Homo sapiens: one gene and its partners. The protein of the gene in region 4 interacts with the protein of the main gene of each other region in a biochemical or structural test. Each region holds a gene or a part of one and is shown on either strand. Other genes may lie near its edges. The genes, in order: SHANK1, PTPN3, MAGI1, CNTNAP4, PALS2, DLG4 and SNTG2.

Region 1 (3,500 bases), on a different chromosome or scaffold from region 4:
GCTTCAGATACACAGAGGGTTGGGAGCAGGTTTTAAATATCCTTGTCCATCTACAGAGTTCACTTGAATTCTGTTTGAAGGTCTGCTATCCAAATGTGTCTGACCTTCAAATGTGGGTTCAGGGAGTGTATATTTGGGGCAACTTAAATCTATGCTCCCAGGTTGAAAAAAAAAAAAAAAGAAAGAAAAGAAAAAGGAGGCTGGGCACAGTGGCCTGCCTCTGTAGTCCCAGCTACTCAGGAGGCTGAGGTGGGTGGATCACTTGAGCCTGGAAGGTTGAGGCTGCAGTGAGCTGATATGACACCAAGGCACTGCAGCCTGGGGAACAAAGTGAGACCCTGTCTTAAAAAAAAAAAAAAAAAGAGAGAGAGAGAGAGAAAGAAAAGAAAAAGGAAGTGTATATTATTAGAGCAACTTGAATCAATGCTCCTACGCTGTAAAAATAAACAAACAAATGTGGGTTTATTAGGCCTTTAAGAACTGAATGCAATTCCTTGACTATTCTTAAGTATTCTGGTTAGAGAAGAGGATTTTTTTTTTCTTTTCTTTTTTTTTTTTTCCACTGCTTGTAGCAGCAACAGGAAGGATGCTTAATTCAGTCAACAATTGCATTAATTATTGACTCATGACCTATGTGTGCAGAGTGCCCTTCTGGGTGATGGGATCCCCTGCTGGACAGGACAGGCAAAGACTGTGCAACTCCACAGGGCTCATAGTCTAGGGACATAGGAGTGGGGGCGGGGCAGTAAACAAAATAATTGCAACCATCCTACAAAAAAAGCTACCACAATGGGATGGGTGGAGAAGGTCTCTCATGTAACAGGCAAGGTGGGCAGAGTAATGAAAGTGGAGAGGGAGCAGCTGCCCAGGGCAAGAGTGAGCCAGGCAGGGGGAGCAGCCAGTTCAAAGGCCCTGAGGTGGGACAGTGCTGGAGGGGAGGGAACGAAAGGGATGAGGGGAACCTTTTTCTCCCCTTGTTTCTTCTCTCTTTCATCTCCCTCTCTTCATCTCTCTCTCTCTGTGTCCCCTGTCCCTTCCATCTCTCTCCCCTGGATGCTCACCCTCTTTTTGTCTCTCTCTCACTGTCTCCCCATCTTTCACTCTGCTACGACTGGCCATAACCTGAAAGGCAGTATAGAATAGTGGTGAAGAGCTCAGACTTTGGTGCCATATAACCGGGCTCTGCCACTTCCTGTGTGTCCTTAGGCAAGTTATTTAACCTCTCTGTGCTGATAATAATAGTAACCTGCATCAGGGCTGTCGTGGGGATTAAACTGAGATGCAATCATGTAAAGCACTTAGAACAATGCCTGGCACACGTGAGCATCAGTAAGCGGTGACGATTATTATTATTATCACTTAATGTCTCTTTTTCTTTCATCTCTCTTAACTGTCGCCCTCTCCCTGTCCTCTCATCTTTCTCTCCCTTCATTTCTTTCCTCGACGGCCGGCCGTCTTACCCCTTGCTCCCTCCATTTCTTCCCGTCTCTCCTCCGTCTCTCCCCCTACCCTTATGTCTCTCCTCCTCTCTCCCTATATCTTGACCTCTGCCTCTTTCTCACCCCTGCCCTTGCCCCCTAAATCCCTGTCCTCCCCCACTGCCCCCTTGTCACATTCCAGACTCTCCGACGACTCCCAGTCCTCACTCCTCTCCAAGCCTGTCAGCAGCCTGTTTCAGAACTGGCCCAAACCACCTCTGCCGCCACTCCCCACCGGAACAGGGGTCTCCCCTACAGCCGCTGCGGCCCCAGGGGCCACCTCACCCTCAGCCTCCTCCTCCTCCACGTCCACCCGCCACCTCCAGGGCGTGGAGTTCGAGATGCGGCCCCCTCTGCTCCGCCGGGCCCCCAGCCCCTCGCTGCTGCCCGCCTCGGAGCACAAGGTCAGCCCTGCGCCCAGGCCCTCGTCCCTGCCCATCCTGCCTTCCGGACCCCTCTACCCAGGCCTCTTTGACATCCGTGGCTCCCCAACTGGAGGGGCAGGAGGCTCGGCTGACCCCTTCGCCCCAGTCTTTGTGCCGCCACACCCGGGGATATCCGGGGGGCTCGGGGGAGCCTTGTCAGGGGCCTCGCGCTCCCTCTCACCGACCCGCCTGCTCTCGCTGCCCCCGGACAAGCCGTTTGGCGCTAAACCTCTGGGGTTCTGGACCAAGTTCGACGTGGCTGATTGGCTGGAGTGGCTGGGTTTGGCGGAGCACCGAGCCCAGTTCCTGGACCACGAGATCGATGGCTCCCACCTGCCCGCCTTGACCAAGGAGGACTACGTCGATCTAGGTGTGACCAGGGTGGGCCACCGCATGAACATCGACCGGGCTCTCAAATTCTTCCTGGAGAGGTGATGGCTGGCCTGGACGGACCAGCCCCGTCCACAGAACTCTTGAGCCTGCTGGCCTCTTGACCTCTGACCCCTGACTGTCATTCTCTCCCCGGGCCAGGGACTCTGTTCAAACTGCGCCCTGCCCTCATCTCCCAAGGCCAGAGGTCACCAGGTGGCCCAATCCAGGCCGGACATTTGCACCTCACTGAAGGGGGGCAGCTGACACAAGAGTGTGTGTGTGTGTGTGAAGCGGGGAGCGGAGGGGGGATAGGAGAAATTACAGAGGGGAATTGAGAAGGAGGGAAGGGCCTATTCTGGGGGGAGGGGATAGACAGAGCCATAGAGGGTCAGCCCTGAGCCCGATTGGATGGGGACTGTCCCCCAGGCCGCAGGGGAAGGGGGTGCCCTCGGATTCCACCACCTGCCACCCCTCTAACAACCCTTCCCACTCTCTCCAGGCCCCTCAGCTCTCCCCCCTTCCCCTCTCCCCAGCACACACAGCTGCCCCCCTCAGCCTCTTGCACGCTCCGTTGCACGCCTGCTCACCTCTCTCCCCTCCCGTCCCCGGGCTGCAATTTTGCACAAATTTGCCCTCTCGCTGTCTTGCACATTCTGCCTTTGCTTCTGGCTGGCGAGGCCCGCTCAAATACACTCTGCTCTCCTCGCACACGCTGCATTTCCTTTCTCACGCTCCATGCCTCCTTCTCTGCTTCTTGCTGCTTACACACTTTTCCCCTACCAGGGCCCTCCTTTACACACTCCATTTCACATCTCCTCCTCCCCGCTCGCTCTGGACCCTTGTTGCAGACACACTTGGGACACATTTTCCCTCCCCCTCACAGACTCCATGCACATCATTCATTCTCTGGAGTGCCCTGCTCTTTGCTCAGCCCTTGCACACTTGCTATCTTATGCACCCCTCCTGACACACTCTTACCTCCATTTTCTTACGTTGAAGCACTTTCCCTTCTTATTCTTAAAAACCCCAGATTCTTCCACTCCCCAACTCTCCCCTCTCACCATGACACTCCTAGCCCCCCACCCCCCGCCTTCCCTCTTGCCCCTTTTGCACCGTCACTTTTGGTCACGCCTTTTGCACACTTGCCTCCCAGAAACTGTTTCTCTCACACATGCTCATTCTCTTCTTCTTTGCCAGGCTCCCACTCCCTTGCCCCTTTCTGTTT
Region 2 (3,500 bases), on a different chromosome or scaffold from region 4:
ATCAGACTGTTCCAGTTACTTTCCTAATACATTGATAATCATTAGGGAACTTGTAAACTGAATAAGTAGCTAATTTCTGTTAGTATCAGTGATACTATTTGTGGTGCTAAATGCTATCTCTCAGCTTCTGATGAACCAAGAGTGAATATATTAAGTTTTTAGCTCTTATAATACTGTTTAGTATTTGTATACATTCAGTAGATCTACTGTTGAGCAAGCCATGAAAATAACTTACTGGATTATATCATTGACTTAGGTTGGGCCTGATCCTCAGGCCAGATGAGAGAAGGAATGGGGAGGCAACTGAAACCATGCCCTCTGTTGCTGAGCTGCCTGGGTTCAAATCCTGCCTCTGTCACTTGAGCTTTAATTTGTTGCTTCTATTTCTTCATCTGCAAAGCTTTGTCATCTGCATGCATCCAATGCCAGCAGGGCTGGGTTCTGGTCTTGTATTGTGGCACAAGAAAATACCCCTATTTTGGTGACTGAAAGCAACACCCATTCTGTTATATCTCATGACTTTGTGAGTCAGGAATCCTAGAAGGGCTTGGCCAGAGGCCTCTTCTGCTCTGTGTGGTGTAGATAGGGATTTCTCAGTGAATGTGGCCAGAGGATCCAAGATAACTTCTCTTGCATACCTGGTGTCTTGATGGAATGGTTGGAAGGCTGGACTCACCTGGACTCCTTAGCATCCCCATCTGGATACTCCAGGAGGGTGGTTGAATTTCTTACATGGACACTCAGGGTTCCAGGAGCGAAAGGCAGAACCGTTCAGCCTTCTTAAGGGTGAGACCTGGCACTGGCACAGCGACTCTGTTGCTGAAAGCAGTCACAAGCCAACCCAGATGCAAGACTCAAAGAACTTGCAGTCATCTTTAATCTGCCACAGGGGATCATTTGGGTTGGGAGGATGGCTTGGGAGGACAAGTCAGCAGTTCTTTTACTACCTGTGCCAGCTTCAGCATACTGGTGAATTTCAAGTCTCATTACCTCCATTTTACAGATGAGGACACTGAGGCTTAGAAGGGTCACATGACTTGCCCAGCCCCTAGAGATACAGATACACATCTGCTTATTGGGCCTTCTGAAAGGTTCCACATAAAAAGAAATTTGTTGGGTTATTTTCCAAGCTTATGGGACAATGGAACACTTTTTTTTCAGAGAGTCCCTATTAATAACCCATGACACATTAAACCTTGGAGTTGGGCAGTTTGCTCCCCTTGTTTTGATCCTGTGCTCTTCATCACTGGCAGTGTGGTTTCTGATGTAGGCCTGCCTCAGAGGAAAGAGTCTCCCAGTGATGCTGTTGTGAGCATTTTGATCAGGGTGACAACAGCATTTCTTAATGTGAATTAGTACATGATGTGCTACAGGGCGATTCATATTGTTTATGTTCTTTTGTTTGTTCTTTGTTCTGTTTTGTTTTTGTTGGTTGGTTGATGTCATGTCACAAGGAAATGTGTAGAATGTTTTCATAAGACATTAAATCCTAGTTTAAAATTTAGAGATGCCAGAACCAAAGTTGTCACCCTTTAACAGGGTGACAGGCTTCATGCTCTATTCTCTCAAATAATTCATTCTCTGAGGGGTCTAGATAGCTAAGATTTAAATTCTCTAGGTATAAATAAAATTCAAAAGTAACCTTCAGGGTAGCACATTTCAAAGAACGTAGCCTGAAACTCTGTATAATTTTTTGTTTTTGGAGACAGAGTCTTACTGTGTTCCCCAGACTGGAGTGCAGTGGTGCGATCTTGGCTCGCTGCAACCTCTGTCTCGGGGATTCAGGGGGTTCTCATGCCTCAGCCTCCCAAGTAGCTGGAATTATAGGCATGCGCCACTATACCTGGCTAATTTTTTGTATTTTTAGTAGAGGTAGGGTTTTGCCATGTTGGCCAGGCTGGTCTTGAACTCCTGACCTCAAGTGATCCACCCGCCTCAGCCTCCCAAAATGCTGGGATTGCAGGCATGAGCCACTGTGCCCAGTTTGAAACTACTTTCTAAGCGCATTTTCAGATTCTCTCTCAAAGATTTACCAGTGATTTATAGTGACAGCTCCTGCCAGCTAGGATGATGAAGAGCACCTGAAAAAATGGTTAATATTTTTACTTAGGCCAGTGTGAATAAAATAAGAATTCCTTGAAATCACTGGAGCTGTATTTCTGTGTGATCCTGGAATTCCTTCTAATCTGGTTAGGTTTGGTTATATTCTGGAAACAGCTTTGTTGCTTGAGTAGTGAGGACAAGAAAGGATTTTCACCCGAAGAGAAGAAATCACATAAGGAAATTCCAGGACAGACAGGAATCGCTTTTGAGCTGTCTCCCTCTACTCCCCATAACCTTGGCATTAACCTGCCGTCCTTCAGACAAGAAGCATGTGTAGACTGTTTCACACATGCAGTAATTTCTTTCCTGTTGAACGTCAGTGTAGAAAGTGAACCTGCATCTGGTTTTTCAGGTCGGTAAATAACCAATATTGCAAAAAGGTGATTGGCGGGATGGTGTGGAACCCAGCCATGCGGAGATCCTTATCAGTGGAGCACTTAGAAACCAAGAGTCTGCCTTCTCGTTCCCCTCCCATTACTCCCAACTGGTATGTCCTCCTTTTTTTTTTTTTTGTACTACCCAACAGTAGACACTTTATCTCTTTTAAAAATAAAAACTCAACTTATAAACTCCTAAAGATAGATGACCTACAATTTGCATTTTAGGCTCTTGGCAGAAGTAACTGTTTTCATGAAGTACACAAGTCTAGCTAAATGTTTTCCATCGTGTATAATGCTGAGATGCTCTTTTTAAAAAAACTTATTCAATCTAAATAGTTTGGGAAACTCGAGCCTGCTGAAAGGCCTCCTTTGGAATCACAGCACACATTAGCATATTAAACACTCTGAGACGTCCAATAATAAAAAAGTACGGTTAGCTTTACTTAATTCATGTTTTCCATTAATATCCCACAAAATAAACTTTAGGGAAAACTAACGCAGGTACGTGATGTAAATGATGTAAGGATGTATGACCTTCAGCAGCAGAAGCAAATGCACATCAGTAAGTAGCAGGCCAACTTAAGAGGATGGACTCAGCTTAAAAAGAAATAGGTGGTCGTTTGGTAAAGTGAGAAGGGCACTGGGTTTGTAGCAGAAAGACCTAAACTCAGGTTTTGGCCCTTCTGTTAATTAACAAGTTTCTTTACCTCTGTAGCCTCAGTTTCCCCATATCTAAAAAGATGATAAAAACTACCGCAAATGAAATAATAATGTACAAGTACGTAGTAAGCTTTTAAAAGAGTCAGGTGGAATTATCATTATCTTATTATAATGGTCCTCAAAGACATCACACCATTTTTGTGAATACCTCCAAAAAGGCTAGGGGCCAGAGGGGAAACCTAGCAGGGAATCATTGCCCCCAGCTCCACACTGGAGTAAGAGTGCGTGGCTGTAAATACCTGATCCAGGATCTGCTAAGCCTAAGAGAAACTGGGAGACAGGCAGACAGAGGAGATG
Region 3 (3,500 bases), on a different chromosome or scaffold from region 4:
TCTACAAGAAAGTTGTAGAGCTGGCCAGTTCTAGGTCAGCTTTGATTCCTTCTTCCTGCCCATAAGCTTTGAACTTTAATTCTCAAAATACTACATATCCTTTCAGGCTCAGCTCAAATATAACTTTCTTCCCTTGGAAATTCCTCCTTCCTCCAACTGCCTTCAGATTTTAGCATTCCCTCCTTGCCATTCTAGTGACTCATGGTTTACTGCTGTATCAGAATCTGCCATTTTGAGACAGTGAATTGTGTGAGTGTTTGTCCTTTCCCTTGAAAGCTCACGTTGAACACACCTTGGTTGTTCACCTTTGGATGCAGCTCCCACCTTGAAACCTTTAAGGCAGAACCCAGAGTGCAGCAGAGGTGATTGTCTTCTATCAGTGGAATTACTGGAGAAATATGACCTGAAATATTATGAATTCTCTTGGCATTCATATTAGTGAAACAGATACCTGTCAGATAAAATTAATTGGTAACTTCTTTTAAAAAAAAAGAGTATAACCCATTTTAAATGGTATATGATTAATTATAGAATTAAGATGTTAAATTCCAGTGTGTTTGTGACCTCACAATCCTTCTTAACATACTATTCCATGTAGCTAAAAGCAGTCAGCTGGAACGAGTTTTTGAGATGAGATGAAAACTAACTATCTCGCTTCCCTGGCCCAAATAGAAATAGTAAGGCAATGTGATTTTTTTTGTTGTTTCAGGTTTATTTTTTTAAATCTTAAATATTTTGGATTTTTAGCTCTGTGTAAAAGGCGTGTCAAATCTATGAAGAGACATTATGCAAGTGAACTAGTCACAAAAGGAGAAATATTGATTCCCTTTATATGAGATACCTAGGGTAGTCAAATTTATAGAGATAGAAAGCAGAATGATGGTTGGTGGGGGGTGGAGGAAATAGGAAGGGGAATTAGTTTTTAATGAGTACAGAGTTTCAATTTGGGAAAATGACAAAATTCTGGAGATGGATGATGATGATGGTTGCACAAAAATGTGAATGCACTTAATACCACTCAACTGTATGCTTAAAAATGGTTTAAAAATTTGTTATGCTTATTTTTCCAAAATTAAAACAATCTATGAAAAGAGAAGCTTTTGGAAATAAATACAGTCTGATCCAAAACTTGGACACAACACACATTTTGTTTTTTGGCATAGTTGGTTCCACCTACGGTGTTGGCTATTTAGGAGTGCTTTACCTTGCAGTCTGATGGTAACACTAGAACGGTGACTAAATTCAGAAGGAGGCCAGTGTATCCAGTTCTGTGATCAGAGTCGATGTTGACACCTGGAAGCTAAGAAGAGAAGCATGTGTATGTCTCACAGGTGTTGTCATGAACCCCACATAGGGCGGGTAGCCTCAACGTTACCATCACCTTACTGTTTGTCGCCTGATGGAAAAAGCTGGGTGGAAATGTGACTGGAAAGTAATGACAATGTGAACGTGCATCCAAGGTTGTATCTATGAAGCCAAGATGGCGGTCTTCACGGGTGTAGCCCTCACCTACGCTTAGGCCCTTCCCTTTGTGCAATGGGGAAATATTTCACAGCAGGCCGATCTTGCTGCAGACTTGATTCTGAGTGTGGATGTCGACATATAGCATGCTATAAACAACAAACGCTATTTGGGAGTCCCATTTGGTGTTAGGTGGGATCAATGTTCGTAGATACTGAATGGTTAATATTTGTCAAGAGAAGCTGCTTTCAATCCGTATATCCAGGTATTGTGAAACCAGGTGCTGTCTCCTCCCCTCGGTTCACGTTTTGATTTCTAGCAGGAGTTGCTGGAAGGAGGGAGGGGCAGCAGGATGGAGGGGCTGCAGGACACGGTGATGTACGCGTGCATCTCTCTGCTACAGTGCCCAAAACCGAGAACGAGGTGCCCTCGCCAGCCTCCTCTCATCACAGTAGCAACCAGCCGGCCTCGCTGACAGAAGAGAAGCGCACTCCGCAGGGCAGCCAGAACTCGCTGAACACGGTGAGCTCGGGCAGCGGCAGCACCAGCGGCATCGGCAGTGGCGGCGGCGGGGGCAGCGGCGTGGTCAGCACCGTGGTGCAGCCCTACGACGTGGAGATCCGGCGCGGGGAGAACGAGGGCTTCGGCTTCGTCATCGTGTCCTCGGTGAGCAGGCCCGAAGCAGGCACGACCTTTGGTGAGTGCTGAACGTGAAATTACCCAGGGTTTCCCACCATGCCTGGGAGTTTTTGTTCTCTTGCGAGTGAAAGCTGACTCAGACCTCACGTGCAGAAATGCTTTATAGCTTCTTGCTCTGGGTAATTAAAGACTTAATTGGAGATGGAGTTGATTTGGTAGCTTTTTCCCTTTTGAAGGTTGGGAATATTTGTTCAACCCTTTCAACTTCCACACTGAGAATGTGATCACGCATACACAACTTAAAGCATACATCAGATTTGCGTGAAATTTGAATAGCAGCCGGGCGCTGTTGCTCACGCCTGTAATCCCAGCACTTTGGGAGGCCGAGGAGGGTGAATCACTTGAGGTCAGGAGTTTGAGACCAACCTGGCCAACGTGGTGAAACCCTGTCTCTACTAAAAGTACAAAAAGTAGCTGGGCGTGGTAGTGCATGCCTGTAATCCCAGCTACCTGGGAAGCTGAGGCAAGAGAATCGCTTGAACCTGGGAGGTGGAGGTTGCAGTGAGCCGAGATTGTGCCACTGCATTCCAGCCTGGGTGACACAGCGAGACTCTGTCTTAAAAAAAAAAAAAAAAGAAAAGGAAAGGAAAGAAAAGAAATTTGAATAGGAACCCCTGGACAGCATACAGAGTCTACAGTTTTTGCCAAAGCAAGGCTTTCGAAAGGTCTTGAATAGGATAGCACTAATTGCAAGGGCCTCAGAATGGTCTTAAGAATGTCTTAAGAGTTTTTACAAGGAGCATACGGCTGTAAAAATGCTCTAGGAAAAACAGAGGTGTAAGGAGTAAAAATACTACATGAGATGCTAGTCTGCCTCATCTGTGTTCTTTCTCTACTCTATCCCCATAGGAATTTTTTTTAATTTTAAATAATATTTTTACTGTTGCTTGATTTAAAGTCTGGTTAAAATCTGAGTTAAGAGTCATTCGATTTTCCTGTCTCGTCCAGACATTGAGGGTTTCAGCAAAGTATGGAGAAACACAGTTGTCACTTTCTCAGAAGGATTCACTCTCTTCTGGGTACACTAGCAAAGACCAATAGAAACCCAGATGATTGCAGAAACTAGTGATATATGAATCTGCTTCCCATTGCAATGGATTGATTATAGATGTACACTCCAAAAATGATCCACCTTCCTGATTGGGTAAAAAGTCATTTGTTATCTCCCAAGCACATTTGTTACTTACTATGGAATACAATGGGAGAAGGGGAAGGGCTGTGCAGGCTGTGTGGGCTTTTCATGTACCTCAGCTCTATCCCTGAATGACTTATCCACATGGAAACTGGCTAGAATCAGCAAGGTGCTACAACCCTTTAGCATTCTCATCCAGTAGAGCTCA
Region 4 (3,500 bases):
TCATTCTGTAAACTTTCAGTCAGTGAAAACAAAATGAAAATATTTTTTAAAGGATAGTGAAGGACTTCTTTTGTTTGTTTAACTTTTATTTTTTAAGTTCAGGGGTACAAGTGCAGGTTTGTTACATAAGTAAACTTGTGTCATGGGGGTTTGTTGTATAGATTATTTCAACACTCAGGTATTAAGCCTAGTACCCATTAGTTATTGTTCCTTATTCTCTCTCTCCTCCCACTCTCCATCCTCCAAAAAGCCCCAGTGTGTGTTGTTTCCCTCTATGTGTCCATGTGTTCTCATCATTTAGCTCCCACTTATAAGTGAGAACATGCAGTATTTGGTTTTCTGTTCCCTTGTTAGTTTGCCAAGAATAGTGGTCTCCAGCACCATCCATGGCACTACAAAGTATGTGATCTCATTCTATTTTGTGACTACGTAGTATTCCACGGTGTATATGTACCAGTTTTCTTTATCCAGTCTATCACTAATGGGCACTTAGGTTGATTCCATGTCTTTGCTATTGTAAAGAGTGCTGCAATGAACATACATGTGCATGTGTCTTTATAACAGAACGATTTCTTAAACAACCTGGGACTAATTGGCAACCTAAAGGTCATATGATTCATTAGTGAACAATATTAAGGCCTCAATATTGTTTAATCTGAAGTAGAATAGCTTTAAATTTTAAACATAGTATTTAAACAAGAAAAATCGGTATTTGTAGAGCAGAGCTGATATTCTATTTTTAAAAACTCAAAGCCATGTAATGCCAATGTCATTATCCCTAATCGTTGTCTACTTACAGTGGATGATCACGAATCTCATCACAATTCCTTTGACACTCAGAGAAAGTCATATTTCAGTTAAGCTCTTTGAGACTATCCTAGTTTTTTTGGTGGGGGGGTTTATTTTCTTTTTGGAAATTGGCCTTTTGATGAGACTTAGAAATCTTCATTTAAAGCTGAAGCACTAAAAACAATATAATGAAAAAATAAACTATTTTAACAAGTGACCATTTGTTTTGAAAAAAAACTGAAAAAATGAAAATGGGTTTTTAAATGATATTACATCATATTTTTAATTTAATTTTTCAAAAAACTGTAGGAAAAAGTATAGCGTAAATAAAATGGGGCCAAAGATCAGTTCCTGGAATTCTAAAATAAATACAATTTCAAATACACAAACCATTTACCCAGAAATTTATTATTGACAAGGGTAAGTGAAAATCACTTGCTTAAATATCATGAGCTCTTAGTGGGCAGTGCTTAAATGAAAATCTATTTTTCAGTTTATTCTAGAAAGTTGGCCAATTTCAGAATTTTTAGAAAGCTGCTGCTTTAAAAGTCACAGGAGCAAAAATACTCTTCTATCAAAAACATTTTCCTCATATGATCTTTGATTCCAAATGTAAGTTGCTGATTAAGATAGAGTGGAATATTTTATACTCATGAAAATGTAAAATAACAGCAGAATTTTTGTTCAAAACATCTAAGTTGCAATTACTTGTACAGTTAATTGAACTTATATTACTTATATACTTCATTGAACTTATATTACTTATATATTTCATCAAATATCTTATCCTAACAAGACCACTTGAGATTAAAACTGTGGGAATTTTACAAATAATTTATACCCACTGAAATATCAAGATTTTTGAACAATAAAGTCTTTAAGAAAAAACATACAAGGAAACATTAACTTGAAGATATCCTCTGTTACAGTTCCTGGCAATAATAGCATTGCGTTCAGTACCACAACTCTGCAAGTATATATTTGTGTGCTAAATAATTAAGACTAAATTTTATCATAGAAGTATAATTTATACACTTTTCATGTCTTATCATTTTATTGTATATTATTTAAATAGGGGTCAATTAACTTTTTATATAAAGTGCCAGAGAGTAAAGAATCTTATGTAAGTAGTTACATAGTAAGAGGGTAAACAATCTTAATAAAATTTAATTGATAAAATTCAAAATATAATACTAATATTTGAGTAGAAATTTTTGTCATGCAGGTTTACTAATAAGTGGAAGAATAAAATTTGAATTTCATATAATTATTTTTTACCATGAAGAATTCTTCTTTTAATTTTTTTCAGCTAAAAATGGAAGAACTATTCTTAGCCCATGGGTCATACAAAAACAGTCACTACTAGCAGGTCAGATTCAGCCCATGGGCCACAGTTTACCAACCTGAGTTAAATATTTTATTATCTTATGATAGATGTTATATAATTCTATTAATCTATTTTCTTTAACAAAAGTCAATTTAATCTTGATATACTCATTAGCTCCAATACAGAAATTGCTTACATATGATATAAATTCCAAAATTAATTTTACAAGACAATAATCTTTATTTCCTAGAGTAAGCACCAGGTATTATGTGAAAGTTATGTTTGATCCCCATGTTGGCCCATGAGTCACGTTATCTCCAGAGCTAGAGGCTGCCTTTATCAGAGATTATTGAGATGCATGTAATAAGAAGTGGAGAAAATGGACTGAATAGATGAAAATAAATCACCATTGCTATTAGAAAAGTGAGTCAAAGTACGTGCTGATCTTTATAGGGGCTAGCCATTTATGCATTGCCTCATAGAATTATATTTTATCAGTACTTTACTATTGCATTCTAGTTATTTTCTGCTATAGGAGTAAATATGGTGGGGGGAGGAAAAGAAAGTAGCTTCTAGAAAGAATTACAAGGTTGAGTTTTAACAATGTGAGAATCTGTCCAGCTGTCTCCCAGGACCCACAAGAGTGATCATCTACTTAGGCAATTTGCCTTCATCTATCCTTCAGTGCTTCTTTTAGGGTAGGTATCAGATACGGCCTTTATTTCCATCAGAGAAAAGAAAGAACACAGTGAGATGTTAACTTCTAATTAAGTCATTGGGGAGCATTAATTATTCTCAAGAGTACGGCTCAGTATACCAGTAACTAGAGAGCCTCCCTCACATAATCTGCAAGAGTTAAAATAAAAGCAAACTCTTATCAGCCTTACTACTGTACCCATTCCTTCTTTTGGGGTAAGTTGACCCCATCTTCAACCATGTCTTAATGTTCAAAAACTGGATTTATAAGAGCTATTAAAAAATAGAGAAATGTCTCTGTTCTTAATGCATGTCTCTTAGTAGCAAGCAAAGAAACCAAGAACAGCCAGTGCAGCTTCTCAAAGAGCACACCCATCTGCAAGGATCCGTCTCTAAACTTTGATGGAAGGGACACTTCAATATAATTGTAAAAGCTCATCTTGATGAGAACAAAGAGAAAAAAATTATGGCTAGTCCACTGCTTTTGAAATGTCAGACAGGATACTAGTAGGCAGGGAGCGTGGTTCATTCAACATATTTCATCTTTAGACAGATAAGTACTTAACAGGGCCACCAAAAATATGCAAGCACATGAGTCTAGTAGTTTACAGATATCTACATACACATATACGTATATACAAATGAGCACGAGTCTAGTAGTTTAGATATCTACATACACATATACCTA
Region 5 (3,500 bases), on a different chromosome or scaffold from region 4:
GGTATGTTTTAAATGTCTTTATCTCTTAGATATAAATACTGAAGTATTTACAGATGACATGATATCAAAGATTTGCTTCAAAATAATTCAAGGTGAGGAGGAAGTGGGGAGGGGTCTAATTAAAACAAGAAATTGCCACGATTATTGAAGCTAGGCGATCGGCATAGGGACTCATTTATTCCCTCTTTTGTATATATTTTTGAATTTCCATTAAGTAAAAAAGTAGACAGGAAAAAAAGGAAAAAACATGTAATAGAAACTAAACATCAGAACACCCCACTTTACCAATGATAAACCATATAATAAACATGCCTGTTAATGATCTCGGAGCCCAGTTACCCCACTAGTAAAATGAAGGCGTTCAATTAATACGCATATTTTAATATTGGTCCATTTCATTTTACAAAGGGGAACTAAACTTTTGATTTAAAATAAAGTGTACAATGATTTTCAAGTAAAAGAATACTGTTCCAGATCCTAACTACATCTAATTAATTTTCATTCTGTAGCACCTTATATAGCATGTTTATTTCATAAGCATAATTAGCTAAGAGTTGGCCAGGCACGGTGGCTCACGCCTGTAGTTCTAGCACTTTGGGAGGCCGAGGTGGGCAGATTGCCTGAGGTCAGGAGTTCAAGACCAGTCTGGCCAACATGGTGAAACCCCGTCTCTACTAAAAATACAAAAATTAGCCAGGCCTGGTAGCGCATGCCTGTAATCCCAGCTACTTGGGAGGCTGAGGCAGGAGAATCGCTTGAACCCGGGACGGGGAGGTTGCAACGAGCTGAGATCGCATCAATGCACTCCAGCCTGGGTGACAAAGCAAAACTCTGCCTCAAAAATAAATAAATAAAAATAAATTAGATAACAGTTAAACATGCTCAAAAGAAAAGGAAAGATTTTAGAAGGAAAATCGTATGGTTAGCTCACGGTCAGAAGCTTGGTAGTGATTCCTGCATCCACCACAGCCTTGTGCATGGCACGTAACGTCTCTAGCTCCGGAGCCGCAATAAATACCACATAGGGCATAAACTCTGATGTCCTCAATACTTTCAGTGCCTGTGTAAAAGAATAATTATAAGCCAATTTATACAATATTAGAACTAGAATTCTGCTACCCTTTAGTATATATCAAAGGCTGTTTGCACTTGTTCTATGAATTAAAGGACATAACTTAATACTTATCCCTGTTCTGTCCTTCTCATTCCATATAGTACTTTCTTAAAACAGTGATCCATTTATTTTGTTTTGAACTCAGTCTGTTCCTCTTGAACAAAGTATAAAACAATGATCCAAAAATCATCAAGAGTGATGTAAACTCTTTTTTATGTTAATTGTAGAATTCTGTTAATACTCAAAAAGTAGAAATAACCTCAATGTTGATTAATTGGAGAGTGGTTAAATGAATATATATTCATACTATATAGCAATTACAAAGAAAAAAAGCTCTACAGTAACTACCACAAAAAGATCTCCAAGGAATAGTTCTATTTAATAAAACCCCTGAAGAATCTATATAGAATTTTTCCATTTATGTAAAAAGAAACAACAAAAACAGAAAACCCATTACCTTATATATATTTGTATTTAAGGCATAGTGAAATGACTAGAAAGAGACATAAGAAACTATTAACAATTTTTATCTCTGAGTAGGGACGTGAGGTTGGGCTGAGTGTAGCGGAGTGGGAAGGGGTAGGTGACAGAAATATAGAGTGACAAAATGAATAGTGTAGAGGTGTGCATGTGTGTCAGGTAGGAGGGGGAGTGACTTTAATTTTTTATTCTTTATATTGCAGACTTGAGTTTTAAACTTAACATTTCTTAACACAAGCACTTATGCATTACTTGAACAGGTAAATAAATACATACTAAACTTCTATTGTAGATCTAATCACACAGTTTCTATTGCCACCCAAGCCTCTGTTGGCTAATTGTTCAGAGATTTATTTAACTAGCTATGTATACATAATAACATTCTCTATCACCCAAAGGTAATGGAGGGAGTCACCTTTCCACCCTGACAAAACAAACAACCCCAACCCAACAACCCCGACACACATGAAAAAAACTCCACAGAAAATAAAATATAAAACAGCTTTGGAATCCAAGCAGCTTACTTGTGGGTTGACATCCAGAATGCAAGTCCGTCCAGTTTGGACAACCTCAAGAATAGAATCAATTTTGGTTCCATAGAGATTTCCTTCATATTCCCCATGTTCCAAATACTTTCCAGCTTTAATATCTGCTTCCATCTCAGATCGTGACACAAACTTATATGCCTGGCCATCTTTTTCATCTTCCCTTGGTTTCCGTGAAGTAACTAAATAAAATAGTGTTGAGATTTTTGTACAAAGAAATTTTAGGGCATAAAAAATAGACTAAAATACATAGGGTGGCTTAACGTTTTTCCACTGGGTGCAGCAAACTGTAGGCTATGACCAGATCTGATCTGCTTCTTATTTTTGTAAATAAAGTTTTATTGGACCACAGCCATACTCATTTGTTTATGTATCATACATGGTTTCTTTCCCATTAAAATGGTGGTAGTAATTGTGACAGACTGTATGGACTGCGAAGCCTAAAACTTTACCATGTGGCCCTTTAATAGAAAAGTTTCTTGATACCTTAGGGGAATATTTTAAGAGGTAGTCCCCCAAATAAAATTTGTATCCAAAAATATGCTTCTTAAAATCACTTTGAAACTCAAAGTATATTTACCTAGCAGCAGAGCCTTCAATGAAGTTCTTAATTATGGTAAGTGTTTGAGGCATGTTGTGAGTGAGTATCTTTTCAACTGACCAGCACTCTCCTTCTCCTTAGGAATCTATTACATCTTTTCTTTCCACATTAACACTTCCTAACTGCCCCAAAACGTGAGCAAGCAAAGTTCACCTGTTCTTAGTTGTGATACCAATTTTGTAAAGTGCAGTTTTACCCACAAATTATCTATCTTTTATCTTACCTCAAAACCAACGCTTTTAGCTTCCTGTTTATTGATATTCCCAAATGTTAACTGTTCTATTTTATACTTCAGTGGTAGAGCTAGACGCCTCATTATTATTATGGTCTATTAACCTCCTCTCCTCTGACCTGACATATTATTTCTGGGAAAATGAGATTGAATAGCTCAAGTCAAAATTTAGAAGTAGGAGATCCTTTTGTCTGATATTTTACAGCTTTGAATACTTTCAGAGACATACAACCCTTTGCAAGTTGGTCTGTGCTAGGAACGGTTATTACCATTTTTTAAACTGTTGCAAATGTGTACTCTCTGACAACTTTGTTAACAACAGCTTTGAAGAAGAAAAGTAATTTTTGAGCGTGTTATTTCAAGCTTAGCCTTACTCTGGGCTTTGCTGGATCGGATATAAGAAGTATCCTGTTTCTATTAGCTAAGTAGTTGGAGAATAACTGATGGAATTATTAACTACACCAAACTAAACTAAGAAAGTAATCCGAATAAAAAGATGACAGTGTTTTGACTATTTCTAATAAGCCT
Region 6 (3,470 bases), on a different chromosome or scaffold from region 4:
AGGGGCCCGCTGCGGAGTCCCCTGCTTCTCCCCCCAAAAAACCACCTTTGAGAAGAAAAAAAGTGGAAAAAATAAATGAGAAATCAAGGAACATGGGGAATTACGATGAGGGCAGGGGTGACCCCAGACCCTGCCTTAGGAGAGAGCGGAGGCCTGTGGCCCTGCATCCCTGCAGCGGGTGCTCCTCGAGGGGGCCCTGACTTCTGGAATGTGTGTGGGAGAGGATGGGGGAGGGCAGGTGGCCCCCGGTGGGTCTGTGTGTGCATTGGGGGCAGGTGGGGGCGGGGATCCTAAGGAGCAAGGGCTCGGAACAAGGAGCCCAGCTCCCCCCCAGACCCCAGGTTCCTGGCGTTCAGGAGCCCAGTTCTGGGGTGCGGGGATACATGCAGAGGAGTGTCCCCCCTCCAACAGGCTGGATCCAGTTAGAAAGGAAATAAATAAGAAGGGGTGGGAGGGAGGCCGGGGGGAGCCAAGGGCTTGGGCAATTCAGTCCAGACCAAGGGCCCAGGTGATGGAGGCAGGGCGAGTCCAGGCCAAGCCAGGGCAGGAATCAGAGTCTCTCTCGGGCTGGAACCCAGATGTAGGGGCCTGAGAGGTCCTCGATGACACGCTTCACCTTGTGGTAGATCTCCTCAAAGCTGTCACCCTCCACGATGGCTGGGAGTGGGGTGGAGCAGGGAGTGAGGCCAAGGAAGGGCCAGAGGACACCTGGCCAAGGGGGTTGCACCAGCCCAGAGGAAGGGGCACCTCTTTCCAACTCTCCAAGCCATAAGTCCTGGGGCTGCACCCGCCCACAGGGGCACCTCTTTTTTTTTTTTTTTTTTTTTTTTGAGATTGAGTTTTGCTCTTAGCGCCAGGCTGGAGTGCAGTGGTGCGATCTCGGCTCACTGCAACCTCTGCCTCCCAGGTTCAAGCGATTCTCCTGCCTCGGCCTACCGAGTAGCTGGGATTACAGGTGCCCGCCAGTGCTGGGATTACAGGCGTGAGCCACCATGCCGCGCCCACAGGGGCACCTCTTTCTAAGCCATCCACTGGGGGTGGCGGGGGAGCTCTTTCTAATCCGAGCAAGGGCACCCTACATGCTGGCAACAGCCTTGCTGTGGCCTCACCTGAGAAGCACTCTGTGAACTCCTGCTCCAGCTTGGTGGCTCTGTCGAAGGCTTTGCGGGCTTGCTCCTCTGTGATCCGCTTGTTAATCTCTCTGTGAAGAGGGAGGGAGAGCAGGCCTGAGACTGGACCCACCTGACCCTGCCTTTTATCTCCTCTATCCAGGAATGTTAAGTATTCTTCTATTTGGAGCACATAGCAAAAAAAAAAATACAATTCCCAATATCCTCTGGGGCCACAGATGAGAACCACCCCCCACCCCCCTGCCACCCGCAACCGCCCCAGCCAGGTGTGGCTACTCCAGGGACATCTACGGAGCTTCATCCTTCCAGCCTTCAGCCCCAGAGATGGGATTCGGACTCCAATTCCCAACAGCCCTAGAGGCCCTGACTCGCCCCAGCTGGTATGCCCCAGGGGCTGCTGGGAAATGTAGTCCTGTCTAGCCAAGGCAGGAGAGGAGGGGAAAGACCCGATTCCCCCACATCCTCTGGGTTCCAGGGATCCCCCTCAGGGGCTGCTGAAACCGCTGTCCAGGGTTCTGAAGGGAGAGTTGAACGCAGACGCCTTGTGAGGCCCAGGGCCACAGGTGTTGGGGGAGCAAAGGGGAGGCCCCCAGGACCATACTCACAGCACATTCTCCAGGGAGCGGGGGCGGATGAAGATGGCGATGGGGTGCAGGTGGGCCGCCTGCAGCCGCCGCACGGCATTGGCCGAGACATCGAGGATGCAGTGCTTCCCCTGGGGGCAGGCAGGGTGGGCGGAGGGGGGCCAGCGGGTGGCGAGAAAGGACAGAGAGCAGTGCCGGAGGGACACGGACGGGGAGAGGTGGGGAATGGGAAGTTGGCCGAAGGGGAGTGACATGGATGTCAAGAAACACGGGGGCAGAGAGTCAGGCAGGAAGCGGGTATGGACAGAGTAAAAGACAGAGGGAAAGGAAAGGGAAGATGGAGAGCACGGGAGAGGGCAGGGACAGGACAGAATGGAGGAAGGGAGGAGCACCAGGCAGGCAGGGACCCAAGAGATGGTGGCAGAGCCGGGGCAGCAGCGAGTGGGGCGGGGTGTGCAAGGCAGAGGTGACACAGGCGGGAAGGAAAGCCAAGAAAAAGGAGAAAGGAAGTAGGATAGAGGGAGGAGGGAGGGGAGGACGGACAGAGGACAGACAGATGGAAGGAACAAGGAGACAGATGGGAGGGAGTGAGGCAGATGGAGAAAGGAACCGTGGAGGGAGGGAGGGAGGGCAGGGTGAGGAGCAGCGGGGAAAGGAAAGGAGTTAGCAGAGGAGTGGGAGAGGGGAGCCGGGCCCCAGAAAAGGGTGAGGCAGGGGAGAGGGCCAGCGGGGAGTCAGGAAAAAGGGAGGGACCCAGTGGGGAAGGCCAAGCCACCAAAGACAAGGCCATGGGAAGAGAGGAGAAATGGGGCAAGGAGAAGGGAGTGGGGAGAGAAAGAGGCCAGATGGTGGTGGGGAATTTGGGGTCAGGAAGTGAGGGAGGTGGGAGAGAGAGCAGGGGCAGAGAGCAGGCAGTCAGACAGAGTTGCCCAAGAGGAGAAGGAGGTGGAGGAGCGGAGTGGAGACCCAGCAGGGAAAGAGACAGAGAGAGAGAGAGTTAGAGAAAGCTGGAGGGAGGCAGTGGGGTGGGGAGAGGGGAGAAGGAAGAGGACCGGGTGCCCGCCAGGTCCTACCTGCTCTGCCACCTCTCGCACGGACTGGACGCTGGTCCCATAGAGGTGGCTGTTGTACTGGCCGGCCTCAATGAACTTGTGCGCCTGAATGTCCTTCTCCATTTTCTCCCGGGACGACACAAAGTGGTAATCCCGGCCATCTATCTCATACTCCCGCTTGGGCCGTGTCGTATCTGCCAGGAAGTCACCCCACCCCCCAAAGATCTAACCACCATCCCTCTAGCTTAAATCCTGCCTACTTCAATCAAATCCCCATAGTGCCCAGCTGGTCCTTTGGTGAAAGGGAGCTGCCAGGGAGACCAAGACTGCAGAGGGCCAGAACCGCTTCCCCTAGCACCCTCCAGGGCCTCCAAGTCTCTGGCCTGGGCATGGGTACTATGGAATGAGAGGGTGGCTGAGAAGCACCCCTTCTCGGAGAAACCCTGTATCTCCCTACACACCGATCCCCCAGGAGGCTCTGCCTATGGCCCCAGGGATGGGCCTCCCCTGCCCCACCCCCACTTCCACCTTCTCCTCCATCCAAGGCCCCAGCACTCACGGGGAACACAGGATCCAAACTTGTCGGGGAACTCGGAGAGAAGATCATCGTTGGCGCGGTCCTTGGTGGGCCCAAGGATGATGATGGGGCGAGCATAGTGCACTGCAGAGAGAGCCTGGCTTAGGCCGAGCGCAGGGTTGGGGGA
Region 7 (3,500 bases), on a different chromosome or scaffold from region 4:
TGAATCCCAGCCTCTTTGGATATCCCTATAATCTCTTATAGCACATATGTCCCAGCTTGCAATTGCCTACATAGTCCCAAATAAACTTTGGGAGAGCCTCTCTCTGTCATTGTATTAGGCTGACACTCCCTAACCCAACATATTGGACTGTTCATTCCACACTGTTTCCTGCACAGAGAGCCAGCAGGTGCCCTTTCCTCTGCAGGTGGAAACACATCAGCCCATGACCGACATGTGAACACAGGTGAGGAGTGCAGCGAGGGATCCATACAGGGTGTCCCCAGCTTAGAACTCAACACAAGTATTTTGTTCAAACAAAATGTCAAAATGTGATTTCAATCAGCTCTAGTTAAAAATTCATAATTCAAGATAGCCTTGCTGGTAATACTTGGTTAGAAAATTAACCAGACCAGAGATATCATGACTCAGCTTTTGGCTGAATTGAAGATGTTCAGTGAAATGCCCACAGGATGCTTGTTTATTCAGTATCTGGATCATGACATAATGGATTGAGTATTGTTTCATAAGCTTTAATTTCATTCCTGGCTTTCAGTACTACTCATTGAGTTTTAGTGTGGAATTTAGTGGTGTGACCGATTTCACTGCTAGCTAGTAATTTCTTTTATTTTCTTTTTTTTTGAGACAGAGTTTCACTCTTGTTGCCCAGGCTGGAGTGCAATGGCACAATCTCGGCTCACTGCAACTTCCGCCTCCCGGGTTCAAGTGATTCTTGTGCCTCAGCCTCCCAAGTAGCTGTGATTACAGGCACCTGCCACCATGCCCAGTTAATTTTTAGTATTTTTTTTTTTTTTTGGTAGGGACAGCATTTCACCATGTTGGCCAGGCTGGTGTCAAACTCCTAACTTCAGGTGATCCATCTACCTCGGCCTCCCAAAGTGCTGGGATTACAGGCGTGATCCACCATACCCAGCCATTGCTAGTACTTTCAAAGATTATGCAGTGTAACTTCAACTTATGGTACCAAAAACTATTGATGTTGTTTTGAATATGTGCATTATTACTGGTAGCTGTTTGGCTTCTTATTTCTGTGCATTGTGCTATTATTGGATACATCTTGGGAACTTGTAAAGCAATTTTCAGTTTCTATGTATAAAACCAAAACCCTGGCCGGGCGCGGTGGCTCACGCCTGTAATCCCAGCACTTTGGGAGGCCGGTGCTGGCAGATCACGAGGTCAGGAAATCGAGACCATCCTGGCTAACACATGAAACCCTGTCTCCACTAAAAATACAAAAAAAAATTAGCCAGGCATGGTGGTGGGCGCCTGTAGTCCCAGCTACTTGGGAGGCCGAGATGGGCGGATCACGAGGTCAGGAGGTTGAGACCATCCTGGCTAACATGGTGAAACACCATCTCTACTAAAAATACCAAAAAAAAAAAAAAAAAAAAAAATTAGCTGGGTGTGGTCACAGGCACCTATAGTCCCAGCTACTCAGGAGGCTGAGGCAGGAGAATGGCGTGAACCCAGGAGGCGGAGCTTGCAGTGAGTGGAGGTTGTGCCACTGCACTCCAGCCTGGGCGACAGAGTGAGATTCCGTCTCAAAAAAAATAAAATTAACCCAAAACCCTGAAGCATGAATGATATGGTCATTATGGCTCTTTTTCTCCAAAAGTCCCTTTAAAGCTCAGTAATTGCTATTTGGAAACACATACATACATTGAATTACAATATGTGCTAAGTTTGCAAGAACCTTGTGTTTCTTCTAGAAAGCTACTTGGTTTTTTTTTTTTCCTCTAACAGGGATAAGTCAAAATGAATAAAAGATTTTGAGTACAGTCTCACGCTTTGGGTATGATTGGCGAATCCAGCTTGAATTAAAGTTTAACACAAGGGCTGGGCAGGCCCTGGGTTCCACTCATGACCAGAGTGAGGGATGCTGGTTACCAAGTGTAATGACGCTTTATGAAACTACCTAAAGACTATGAAGCTTTGGCAGGAGAATACACCTCAACATCTTGAACATTTTGCTCATCACAATTTGAAATGATCAAAATAATTAGTGTTGTAGCTGTCAATGTTAAGAGTCATTCACATGCATAGGAAGGAACTTAATTCAAATTGGAATAAAGGAAAGATGAAGCCTTTGGTTGCAGTCACTAGGAGGTTGGGGGCAGCTCCCAGCATGTTGGTACCCAATGTCCCCCAGTGTTCTTTGTGTATCCCTGCATGGGGTGTTCCTCTGTGTTGAAGTCCTCTTCCGGCAGGCTGGCTCGCTGGCTCTCCACTTGGCATTAGTGGTATTAGAACAAGCTTCAGGTATTCACTTCTCACAGCTGGTCACACCAATGTAGGCATCTTGGCCTCCCTCTCCCTGTCATCTGTACCAAGCTGCCACTGGGCTCTGGCTGGTCCAGCTGGGTCCTGTACCTATTGCAAGAGAGAAGCAGTTTCTAAAAGAAAGGCATGCAGAGAGGACCAGGGAGAGGCCGAGGGGACTTCATGCTGTCAGGGAAGTTTGAAGTCATTTTTGAGATGTCACGTCTTTGAGTTATAAAGAAAAGCAGCTCCGAAAAGCTGAGATGGATGTTATTGGGGAGGGAGGGCTTTACCCGGTGATGTGTGACCTCCAATCCTGCCTGGGGCCCCATTCTCCACCCCCTCATTCTGCCATGGAATGAAAATGACCAAGATCCTGCCTTTCGAGAGCTTAAAGGAGCATGTCTGTGGAACTGACAGGCCTTAGCGTTGCTCTTCTTCTTGAAAATGATTTATCTTTCTTTCTGGTGTCATCTCAGCAGTTTAGAATATGCTAGAATTTTGGTGAGATTTAGAAAATAGGATGTCAATCAATTAGCAGTCACCTCAAAATAAATTTTATTTTCTTCATTTTATTGAATTTTGTTATGCAAACAAAGAAGAAAGACAACATTAGAAGAATGCACTTAGACCTTCTTTTCTACCAATAGAATGGGGGTGGCAGGACGGCAAGATTCGTATTTTACCATCAAAAACAGGAAGATGATTTTTCCCCAGTAACTGAATAACTTCTAAAAACAGTTTCTTTAACTTCTGTGTCAGCTTTGGGGTTCACTGTGGACTTTTCTGTTGATTTGACACAGGGACTTTATGTGGGGCAGTTTGTGGAGAGAAGATGAACCTTTTGTGGGTCATTTTTGCTTTTACAGGACATTTAGTGTCTGTAACATGCGGAGGTAAGGATCCAGGAGTTTGTTTCAGTTTTTTTATTGGGAGGGGGTAGGGGTATAACCGTCTCTCTAGGAAACTCTCCCTGGGGCACCCTTTCCTGCTCTCCCGTAGCCATGGGGACAGGGTGGGTGAACAAGGCCCCTCCTCGCTTCCCGCCGTGCTGTGCACACTGCCTATTCTGCGCCACACAGCAGGCGCTGTTCCTCCCAAGCGTGGCCTTGGCATGAAGCCCACACGCACCCACACAGCAGGCGCTGTTCCTCCCAAGCGTGGCCTTGGCATGAAGCCCACATGCACCCACACAGCAGGCACTGTTCCTCCCAAGGGCGGCC

The links.
Region 1: the proteins of CNTNAP4 (region 4) and SHANK1 interact in a test that uses a peptide from one of them, tested with the Homo sapiens proteins (one large-scale study listed by IntAct).
Region 2: the proteins of CNTNAP4 (region 4) and PTPN3 interact in a test that uses a peptide from one of them, tested with the Homo sapiens proteins (one large-scale study listed by IntAct).
Region 3: the proteins of CNTNAP4 (region 4) and MAGI1 interact in a test that uses a peptide from one of them, tested with the Homo sapiens proteins (one large-scale study listed by IntAct).
Region 5: the proteins of CNTNAP4 (region 4) and PALS2 interact in a test that uses a peptide from one of them, tested with the Homo sapiens proteins (one large-scale study listed by IntAct).
Region 6: the proteins of CNTNAP4 (region 4) and DLG4 interact in a test that uses a peptide from one of them, tested with the Homo sapiens proteins (one large-scale study listed by IntAct).
Region 7: the proteins of CNTNAP4 (region 4) and SNTG2 interact in a test that uses a peptide from one of them, tested with the Homo sapiens proteins (one large-scale study listed by IntAct).

The regions. Positions count from the first base shown.
Region 1 is NC_000019.10:50,660,803-50,664,302, reverse strand, and holds part of SHANK1 (SH3 and multiple ankyrin repeat domains protein 1), read left to right. Parts: intron 1-1,620; coding exon 1,621-2,338; 3' UTR 2,339-3,500. UniProt on the Homo sapiens protein: Seems to be an adapter protein in the postsynaptic density (PSD) of excitatory synapses that interconnects receptors of the postsynaptic membrane including NMDA-type and metabotropic glutamate receptors via complexes with GKAP/PSD-95 and Homer, respectively, and the actin-based cytoskeleton.
Region 2 is NC_000009.12:109,421,808-109,425,307, reverse strand, and holds part of PTPN3 (tyrosine-protein phosphatase non-receptor type 3), read left to right. Parts: intron 1-2,455; coding exon 2,456-2,590; intron 2,591-3,500.
Region 3 is NC_000003.12:65,377,919-65,381,418, reverse strand, and holds part of MAGI1 (membrane-associated guanylate kinase, WW and PDZ domain-containing protein 1), read left to right. Parts: intron 1-292; exon of another isoform or gene 293-370; intron 371-1,864; coding exon 1,865-2,158; intron 2,159-3,500. UniProt on the Homo sapiens protein: Plays a role in coupling actin fibers to cell junctions in endothelial cells, via its interaction with AMOTL2 and CDH5. May regulate acid-induced ASIC3 currents by modulating its expression at the cell surface.
Region 4 is NC_000016.10:76,280,401-76,283,900, reverse strand, and holds part of CNTNAP4 (contactin-associated protein-like 4 isoform 1 precursor), read right to left. Parts: intron 1-3,500. UniProt on the Homo sapiens protein: Presynaptic protein involved in both dopaminergic synaptic transmission and GABAergic system, thereby participating in the structural maturation of inhibitory interneuron synapses.
Region 5 is NC_000007.14:24,677,952-24,681,451, reverse strand, and holds part of PALS2 (protein PALS2), read right to left. Parts: intron 2,322-3,500; coding exon 2,119-2,321; intron 1,061-2,118; coding exon 932-1,060; intron 1-931.
Region 6 is NC_000017.11:7,190,158-7,193,627, forward strand, and holds part of DLG4 (disks large homolog 4), read right to left. Parts: intron 3,428-3,470; coding exon 3,326-3,427; intron 2,961-3,325; coding exon 2,788-2,960; intron 1,846-2,787; coding exon 1,736-1,845; intron 1,202-1,735; coding exon 1,110-1,201; intron 658-1,109; coding exon 551-657; 3' UTR 1-550. UniProt on the Homo sapiens protein: Postsynaptic scaffolding protein that plays a critical role in synaptogenesis and synaptic plasticity by providing a platform for the postsynaptic clustering of crucial synaptic proteins.
Region 7 is NC_000002.12:1,363,349-1,366,848, forward strand, and holds part of SNTG2 (gamma-2-syntrophin), read left to right. Parts: intron 1-3,500. UniProt on the Homo sapiens protein: Adapter protein that binds to and probably organizes the subcellular localization of a variety of proteins. May link various receptors to the actin cytoskeleton and the dystrophin glycoprotein complex.